Homo sapiens: one gene and its partner. The protein of the gene in region 2 purifies or fractionates together with the protein of the main gene of each other region. This does not show direct contact. Each region holds a gene or a part of one and is shown on either strand. Other genes may lie near its edges.

Evidence for each region.
Region 1: the proteins of KHDC1 (region 2) and POC1A purify together in Homo sapiens (affinity purification with mass spectrometry; one large-scale study listed by BioGRID and IntAct). This does not show direct contact.

Annotation. Positions count from the first base shown.
Region 1 is NC_000003.12:52,074,726-52,078,385, forward strand, and holds the end of POC1A (POC1 centriolar protein homolog A), read right to left. Parts: intron 1,261-3,660; coding exon 1,162-1,260; 3' UTR 501-1,161; downstream 1-500.
Region 2 is NC_000006.12:73,260,086-73,264,424, forward strand, and holds the start of KHDC1 (KH homology domain-containing protein 1), read right to left. Parts: upstream 3,112-4,339; 5' UTR 2,689-3,111; intron 1-2,688.

The DNA of each region.
Region 1 (3,660 bases), on a different chromosome or scaffold from region 2:
GGCATGCAGGCTCTGCTTCCACCTGGAGGCTGCAGAGGCTGTGAACCCACTGACCACGTGGTACTGACAGCTCCTGGGACGATCTAACACCACCTCCCATTCCCCAGGGCAGGGCAGGTGTGTTTGAGGATAAAGACCTCCTTGGCTGGCTGAGCCCCAAGAAGCTGAAGACGGAAGGCACGGGCGACACACAGACACAGGGAAAACATTTGTCCTGGCTTCCCCAGCACAGGGGCAGAGGGAGGACCCTATGGAAGCCCTCAGGAGCAAATGGAAACTTGGGTGCCTGAGGCCTCTGAGTCCCAACAGAAGCAGTCAGTGGGGGCCAGCCAGAGGGAGGTGGGTGCATGCAAGGGCTCTGACTGCCCTTGTTCCCCGACACCCTGAACAGCTGCAAACAGGGGGGTCCTGGCCTCAGAGGCAATCCTGGCAGAGGCCGTCCCAAGTCACCATTCTCATTCTGTTTGGGCCCTGGGGATGGGAAGATTGATTAAGTGTCATCCAGCATAAGCCACTCCTGCAACAAGTGCAATGAAGTCAGGTTTAATTTTGAGATTCCTGTGCCCTCACTCACGCAAGGAGGAAGTCACCTGGCTCCAGTGAACACGTGTGGAACAGAAATCAGGGCCACTGAAAAGCCACCACCCACTTGAGAGGGCTTGTTCTCAACAAACCTGACTCAGATGGGCCCACTTTGGGCCTTTAGTCAGATTTAGAGAAAACCCCCGGCTCATCCAATCAATGTGCAATCAATTTCTACACCATGGCAGAGGTAGGAAAAGCCAGTCACATGTCCAAATGATGAGTGAAAATCAAGGCATCGTGGAGCCACCTCCTCCAGAGGGGGAGCCACAATCTCAGGACCCCGAAGGAGCAGACATTTTCAAGTGGCTCCTTTACATTAAGCAAAATGTGGTCCTCTCATTCGGGTCTGAAGCATCATTTGTGTGTGAGCCCGGCCCACTGGGGACCTCTGGCTGCCAGGTGGAGAGCCTCCTGGTGCAGATAGCAAGGTGGAGGGCAGAACTGCAAAAATCCAGGGCTCCAGTATGGATGTGATTCCCACAGAGTTCAGTCCCCTTTATTTACCCAAGTCCCATGGTACAAATCCCTGGCCTGCCACCTGCAAATCCACCGAGCTCCTGATTCCTGCTCCCCTGATCATGGTGTTGCTCTCTGCATGATTAGCTGCTGGTTCTCCAGACACTGCTTCAGCTTGTCTTCTGTCAGTGTCAACCGCTGCTCCAGAATGGAGACTGTCTGCAAAATAAACAGTGGTTGGGTCAGAACACAGAAGGGCCGCCAGGCTGCTCTAGGGACCCCCTTGGCCAGTCCCCACTTGGCTGCCTCAGCCACTGCCCAAATGCCAGCTGGCTCTTTCCACCCAGGGGTTCTGCCAGGCCCCTTGTCTCTGGTGCTATTGGGATAGCCCTTGCCTTTATGTCTGCTTCTCCTGGCTCTGGATGGCTGATCTATAATGTTTGTGGGCAGGGGGTGGGGACACAGTGAGGGAAACTAGATGGCAGGTCCCATAGCCTTTGGTCATTTCTCAAGAGAACCAAGGGGTCAGGAACCCCCCACCCTGGTGGCCTGGCATTTATATTGGAGTTCTGCAGCAAAACCAGTTTCCTTGTCTGAGCCAGGCACTGTCCATAAACAACTGGAGACCATCAACCACCTCCACTCCAGAGGTGAGAAAATTGCACCCACAAATGATGGCACTCCACTTGGGTCCTTCCCCTCACACCTGGAAGAGCCTCCCAGGCTGGCAGGGGACAAAGGCAGGGAGGTGAGTCCCCTGATCCCAGGAGGGTCTCTGCCTGTCCAAGTCCAACGAATACTACTATAGGATATGTCATGTGGGACTTCAGCCCAGGGCAATCACAGGCCATGACAACTTCATCTCTCTGAGCCCACTTTCTCCTCCTTCGCCCAGTGCGAAAGACAACCAAGCTCATGGCCTAGGTAACTCAGCAGCCCAGCAGTTGCTCACTCTGACCATGCTTGTCAGAGTGCTTGTCAGGCAGATCATGCTGCCTTCCTGAAGCTGGGCCCTTGCTCTCCTGGCCTCTCTTACACACCCAGCACAATGGCTCACCTGCGGACCTGGCTGCCTGGCCTGCCAAAGGCCCCCAGCTGCTGGAGCTGCATGTGCTTCATGGGCCAGGGCCAGTCTTGCAGACATAGCTCCCAGACAGGCTGGGAAAAGCTGCCCTCCTCCTCTGGCTTTGGATAGAGTGTCAGCAGAGGGGCAGCACTGTCTGGGAGCCTGCATGCTCCCCAAAGAGGGGCTGGACCAGAGCAAGCCTGCCCCACTCATCACTTGCGCGGGTTGGACCATGCTGGCCATGACGCCTTTGGCATCATTTCACTTCCCTCTTTAGGGTTGGCTGAGTGCCTTACTGTATGCCAGGCCCCTGCTGGCCAATGGATGAGCCCATGTGAGTATGGCAGCCTTGACTCCGGTACTGTGCAGCCCATAGGCATCAGGAGGGTCAGATTAACCTCACCCGTGTGCTTTCCCAAGAGGTTTTGCCCCCTTCCCTGGGGCTCCATGAAGTCCTGGGCCTTGGTCCAGTGGAAAGGAAACTTTCTTTCATACATTTAATAAAACATTGAAACATTTTAGAAGGGAGTCTCCCCCTTTAAGGCTGCTATAAATTCTTGCAGCGTCCGGCACAGACATTAGCTGCCATGGAGGGTGCTCCGCCTGGTGGCTGGCCCCTTCTAAATGGGCCAATCAGGGCTGTGAGGGCTCTGAACCCTCTGTCACTGGACAGAGCCTGGAAAAATTGCTGCCCATGGAACACAAACTGCACCCTAAGAGGCAGAGCTGAGCTGAAAGAGACCATCACATTCCCCCTGTGCTGGCCAGCCAGCCGGGGAGGGGGTCTGCAGCTCGTAAAAGTGGCAGCGGAAACAGCCCCTGGCTGGCCCGGGGCAGCATTCCTGGAAGTTTCCACTGGCTGCTGTGAAACTCATAGGGCCAAAATCATTCTTCATCCAGACTTTTTCCGATGGCCCCAAACTCAAGGCCGCAGCAGAGGAGCCTGTTTTTCCTCTTCTGCCTTTTTTTTTTTCTTGAAACTTTTCACAGGAACCCAATTTGCAAACGTGGAGATAGTGGGCCCAGAAAACGTGGGTGAGGTGCTGGGCCAACGTCAATACAAGGGACTCCACTTAGTTCCATAGGGGGCCCATACTTCAGCTCAGTAGGAATGTGACCACTAAATGTGTCTAAATTATTTGAAAAGAGAAGCATCACCTGTTTCACAACCAGCCCCCTGCATGAAGGGTGCCACCCCGTTGAGGCCTTCCTCTGAGAGCTTTGAGGATCACTTCACAGCACAGTAGACAAACAGGCTTTTATGAGGCCCAACACCCCTCAAGGCAGTTTCTCCCCCTCCAGCCTAGCTTCAGAGGAGCTGTGTCATCTCTGTGTTTGGTCTCAGCTTCCCCTGTTCCTTCTCTGCCAAGGTGCCTCGTGGTGGCCACCATCAGGGAGAAAGAAGTCCAACCAGGCCCTTCCCAGCACACGTGATCCCAGCTGCCCCCACTCTGAGCCAGGAGAAGGCCTGGGAGAGCAGGATGCTTTTTGGATTTCTGTACATTAGAATGCTGTCTGGCACTCTTTGCTCCATGTAGTTAAAAAAAAAAAAT
Region 2 (4,339 bases):
AGCCCCCTCCTTTCCAGCTTTCCTCATTCCTACTTTAGAGTCCGCTATTGTGCCTTTATGCCTTCAAATTGGGGTATACCCATATATCCATATAAAAAACATTTTTCTTTCTGTAATCATTACAGGGGAGTCCAGTGTGATTTACAGAACAAATTGAAATCATTCTATCAAGATGTAAAAAAAATTAAGGGGAAGGCTCTGGGCTGGGGAATGTTAATTAGCCCCTAACCCACCCTATCATCTTTCTCTAGTTCACAAAGATAACTGTCAATTTATCCTCAATGTCCAGAATAATGCCTTATACCTAGTAAGCAATCAACAAATATTTGTTTAGAGAATGAGTAAACTATTACCATAGTTTATTTACCTGCTGAAATTATATTTTTCTAATTTTAAACTATTATGCAAAAAAAGTTTCCAGTTAAATATTTTGCATACCTCTTTTTGAACACCTGTTTATCTGTAGAATAAAAAAGTTAAATTAGAATGTCTGAAGCAATGTTCTTCAGTATAATCAATATTACTTCAAAGATTAATTTTAATATTTTAACTTCAATTAATACTGCCAAATCTACCCCCACCCCTAGCAGTGGCTATCCTGATTTATACTTCTACTAAGAATATTCACTTTTCCACAAAATTGATATTTTCAAATTTCAGTTTTAGCCAGTGTGGGAGAAAATGGATCTCTCTATTTTTTTGCTTTGCATGCCAGCATCACTAGTGCAGTTAAGCATCTTTTTTATGTGGTCAGTTTTATTTCATTCTTACTTCTTCATCTATTGTCTATTTATACATTTGCCCATTTCTCTGTAGGGTTGTCTTTTTCTTATATATATTTGTTTTCACTATCTATTCCAGATGTTAATTCTTTGTGCACTGTATGTTTCCTCTTTTTAAACTTTATTCATGGCATTTTTGTTCTATGAAACATTTTAGCCCATAATCTCACATCATGGAAGAGTAATTACCTTGCAAACCTCTCTTGTCTACTCCTACTCAGTAGCATCAAATCCAGTTGATTCAAGTCTTGCCCTCTCTTTAGAGGAAATATAGTGTGGTGATTAGAAGCATAGGCCAGGCATGGTGGCTCACACCTGTAATCCCAGCATTTTGGGAGGCCAAGGTGAGCAGATTACCTGAGGTCAGGAGTTTGAGACCAGCCTGGCCAACATGGTGAAACCCCGTCTTTACTAAAAATACAAAAATTAGCTGGGCATGGTGGCGCATGCCTGTAATCCCAGCTACTTGAGAGGCTGAGGCACGAGAATGGCTTGAACCCAGAAGGCGGGGATTGCAGTGAGCTAAGATCACGCCACTGCCTGGTGACAGAGCTAGACTCTGTCTCAAAAAATAAATAAATAAATAAAATTTTTTTTAAAAAAATAAGCATAGACTCTAGGACCAGGCACAGTGGCTCACACCTGTAATCCCAACACTTTGGGAGGTCGAGGCGGGCGGACCCCTTGAGCCCAGGAATTTGAGACCCGCCTGGGCAATATGGTGAAACCCTGTCACTATAAAAAAAATACCAAAAAAAAAAATAGGCTGGGAGTGGTGGCTCACGCCTGTAATCCCAGCACTTTGGGAGGCCAAGGCGGGTGGATCATGAGGTCAGGAGTTTGAAACCAGCCTGGCCAAGGTGGTGAAACCCCGTCTCTGCTAAAAATACAAAAATTAGCTGGGCATGGTGGCAGGCACCTGTAATCCCAGCTACTCGGGAGGCTGAGGCAGGAGAATCACTTGAACCCGGGAGATAGAGGTTGCAGTGAGCCAAGATCGCACCACTGCACTCCAGCCTGGGTGACAGAGCAAGACTCCATCTCAAAAAAAAAAAAAAAAGCCTAGCTGGGCAAGGTGGTATGTGCCTGCGGTCTCAGCTACTCAGGAGGCTGAGGTGAGAGAATTCATTGAGCCCGGCAGGTTGGAGCTGCAGTGAGCCATGATGGTGCCACAGCCCTCCAGCCTAGGCAGCAGGAAAGAGGCCCTTCTCAAAAAAAAAAAAGCATAGACTCTAGGGCCAAATTGATGTGCTCAAGCAAAGGTTTTGCCACTTACGGTGTAACCTTGGGCCAGTTGCTTAACCTCTCTTGACCTCACTTGCCTTCTTTGTAAACCAGAGGTGATAATAGTATACCCATTTCATAGGGCTGTGGTGAGAACTAGAGGAGTTAATACATTTAAAGAGCTTAAAAGTGTCTGGTGCATAGCAAGTGCTACGTAAATGTTAAACCTTTCCTGCCCTTTTCCTCTGCTCCTCCTTTCCCTTGTTTCCTGTTACAGCATTCCTTCTTTTTTTCTTACTATTTCCTCACTATGCCTTTGCTTGAATACTAAAAAGAAACTACTGGTCCAACAGCAGGCAACACCTCATGCGATTACTTTAAATGACTTCAAAATAATACAAACATATCCAGCACAATAGTTTACATTTTAAAGGTGTTACACCCATTTTGTTTTGAGATGTGTCAACAAAACCCGTGTTTCTTTTCTTTCTATAAGTTTAAAATGTCCCCAAATCAATTAACAATAGAGGAAAGTCACACGATCTGTTTTAATTTTTCTCTTTATACTGCTATCTCCTGTTTCCCCTGTTTTTACACTTCTTTGCAGCTCACTTTCCTTATCTGTAAGATATTCTTAGGATGAACTTAGTAAGAAATGTGCAAGATCTAGATGAAGACCCACCAGATAGGATGCTCTCTTGCAGACACGCAACTCACTGACTCAACCAATGAGGAAATTATCCCACAAAGCAGATAATCCTAATGGAGGGCAGAATTCAGGACTGAGCATCTCAGTGATGCCGCCGGGAACCCAGGCTTCTCTGTCCCTTCACCGGACTAACCGAGTTCGAGACCACAGGGGGGTCAGGTAGCCAAGGCTGGGCTTTGACGGTAGGAATGAAGGAGGTGAGGGTGGCGCGCCGCAGGCCTGGGCCACTCCCTGAGTAGGGCGGCGGCGGCGGCGGCGGCGGCGGCGGCAGCGGCGGCAGCGGCTGCAGGCCTGGCCGATTGTGAGGAGACAGCGGTACCTCCTGGGCCGCGCACCCGACCCTTCCAGGGGTCCCGGCTCGCGCCGCGGCCGCGCGAGGCGCGCTCGAGCGGAAGTGGCGGCGACCCCGCCGGAAGCGCGCGGCTGCGGCGCGGGAAGCAACCCAGAGCCCTCCTCCCGCCTGCTCTGTGTAGGAGACAGCCTGCGGAGCCCACTGCCGGCGCGCAGAGAGCCCAGCAGCTCTTGAGTCCAGGAAGCAAGGGTGGGAGGAGGGACGAGCCAGTGGCAATGACCCAGACCCGGACGACCCCCATTGCTGAGCCAGCGGAGCTGCTTGGTGAGTGGCCTCCAGGCGGCATCTCTTGCTCTCAGCCCGGAGGGGGTTTTGGGGACCCAGGCTGTGGGGCTGCCTCTTCCCATGCCTTCAGTTCACCCCGATATGGGGTGAAAAACCCTAGAGACCCTCGGGTGTCGGTCCACCAAGGGAGGTCCAGACTCCCCAGGAATGTTGCCTGGGGAGGGGTGTCGCGGTGGGGGGGGGGGTGACCCAGGCCCACCCTCTGCAGGGCACTTAAAATGCTCCACATCCCCAGTGGATGCCTCCTGTCACGCATCACACCGTGGTGTATTTGAGATCCCATCTGCCACTTGGGCTGGAGGGAAATGAATGTTTTTGGGTTTCTTGTCATTGCTTCCTGCGGATTCCATTTTACTCCTGTTCGTTTATGGCCTCAAACATGAATTTGAAGAATTTTGCCCTCCCTGGCAGTATTGGGAAGAAGATTCTTTTGTTCAAGTCCGTTTGGACAATTAGATGGGAGTATTAACAAAAGGTCGGGCTGGGCACAGTGGCTCACACCTGTAATCCCAACACTTTGGGAGGCCAAAGAGCAAGGATCGCTTGAGCCCAGGAGTTCGAAACCAGCTGGGGCAACAGAGGGAGAACTTGTCTCTACAAAAAATTTAAAAATCAGCTGGGCATGGTGGTGCACGCCTGTAGCCCAAGCTATATGGGAAGCTGAGGTGGGAGGATTGCTTGAGCCCGAGAGTTTGAGGCTGCTGTGAGCTGAGATCACGCCACTGCATTCCAGCCTGGGCAACAAAGCAAGACCCTGTCTGAGGTCAACTCTGCCCCCAGGAAGGTATGGGACCTTGCAATCTTATCTAGGTTGCGTCTTTTTCATTGAAATCACGAAATCATTAAGGTAAGTAGGGAAGGGTCAAGATAGCTAAGATGAGTGAGGGGACACAGACACCAATAAAAGTTCTAACTTTGAGGACTCCTCCAGTATTCTTTTCATCCTAAAGCTTCTGGCCTATCAGCTAGTTCAGACACAGCCTAGGA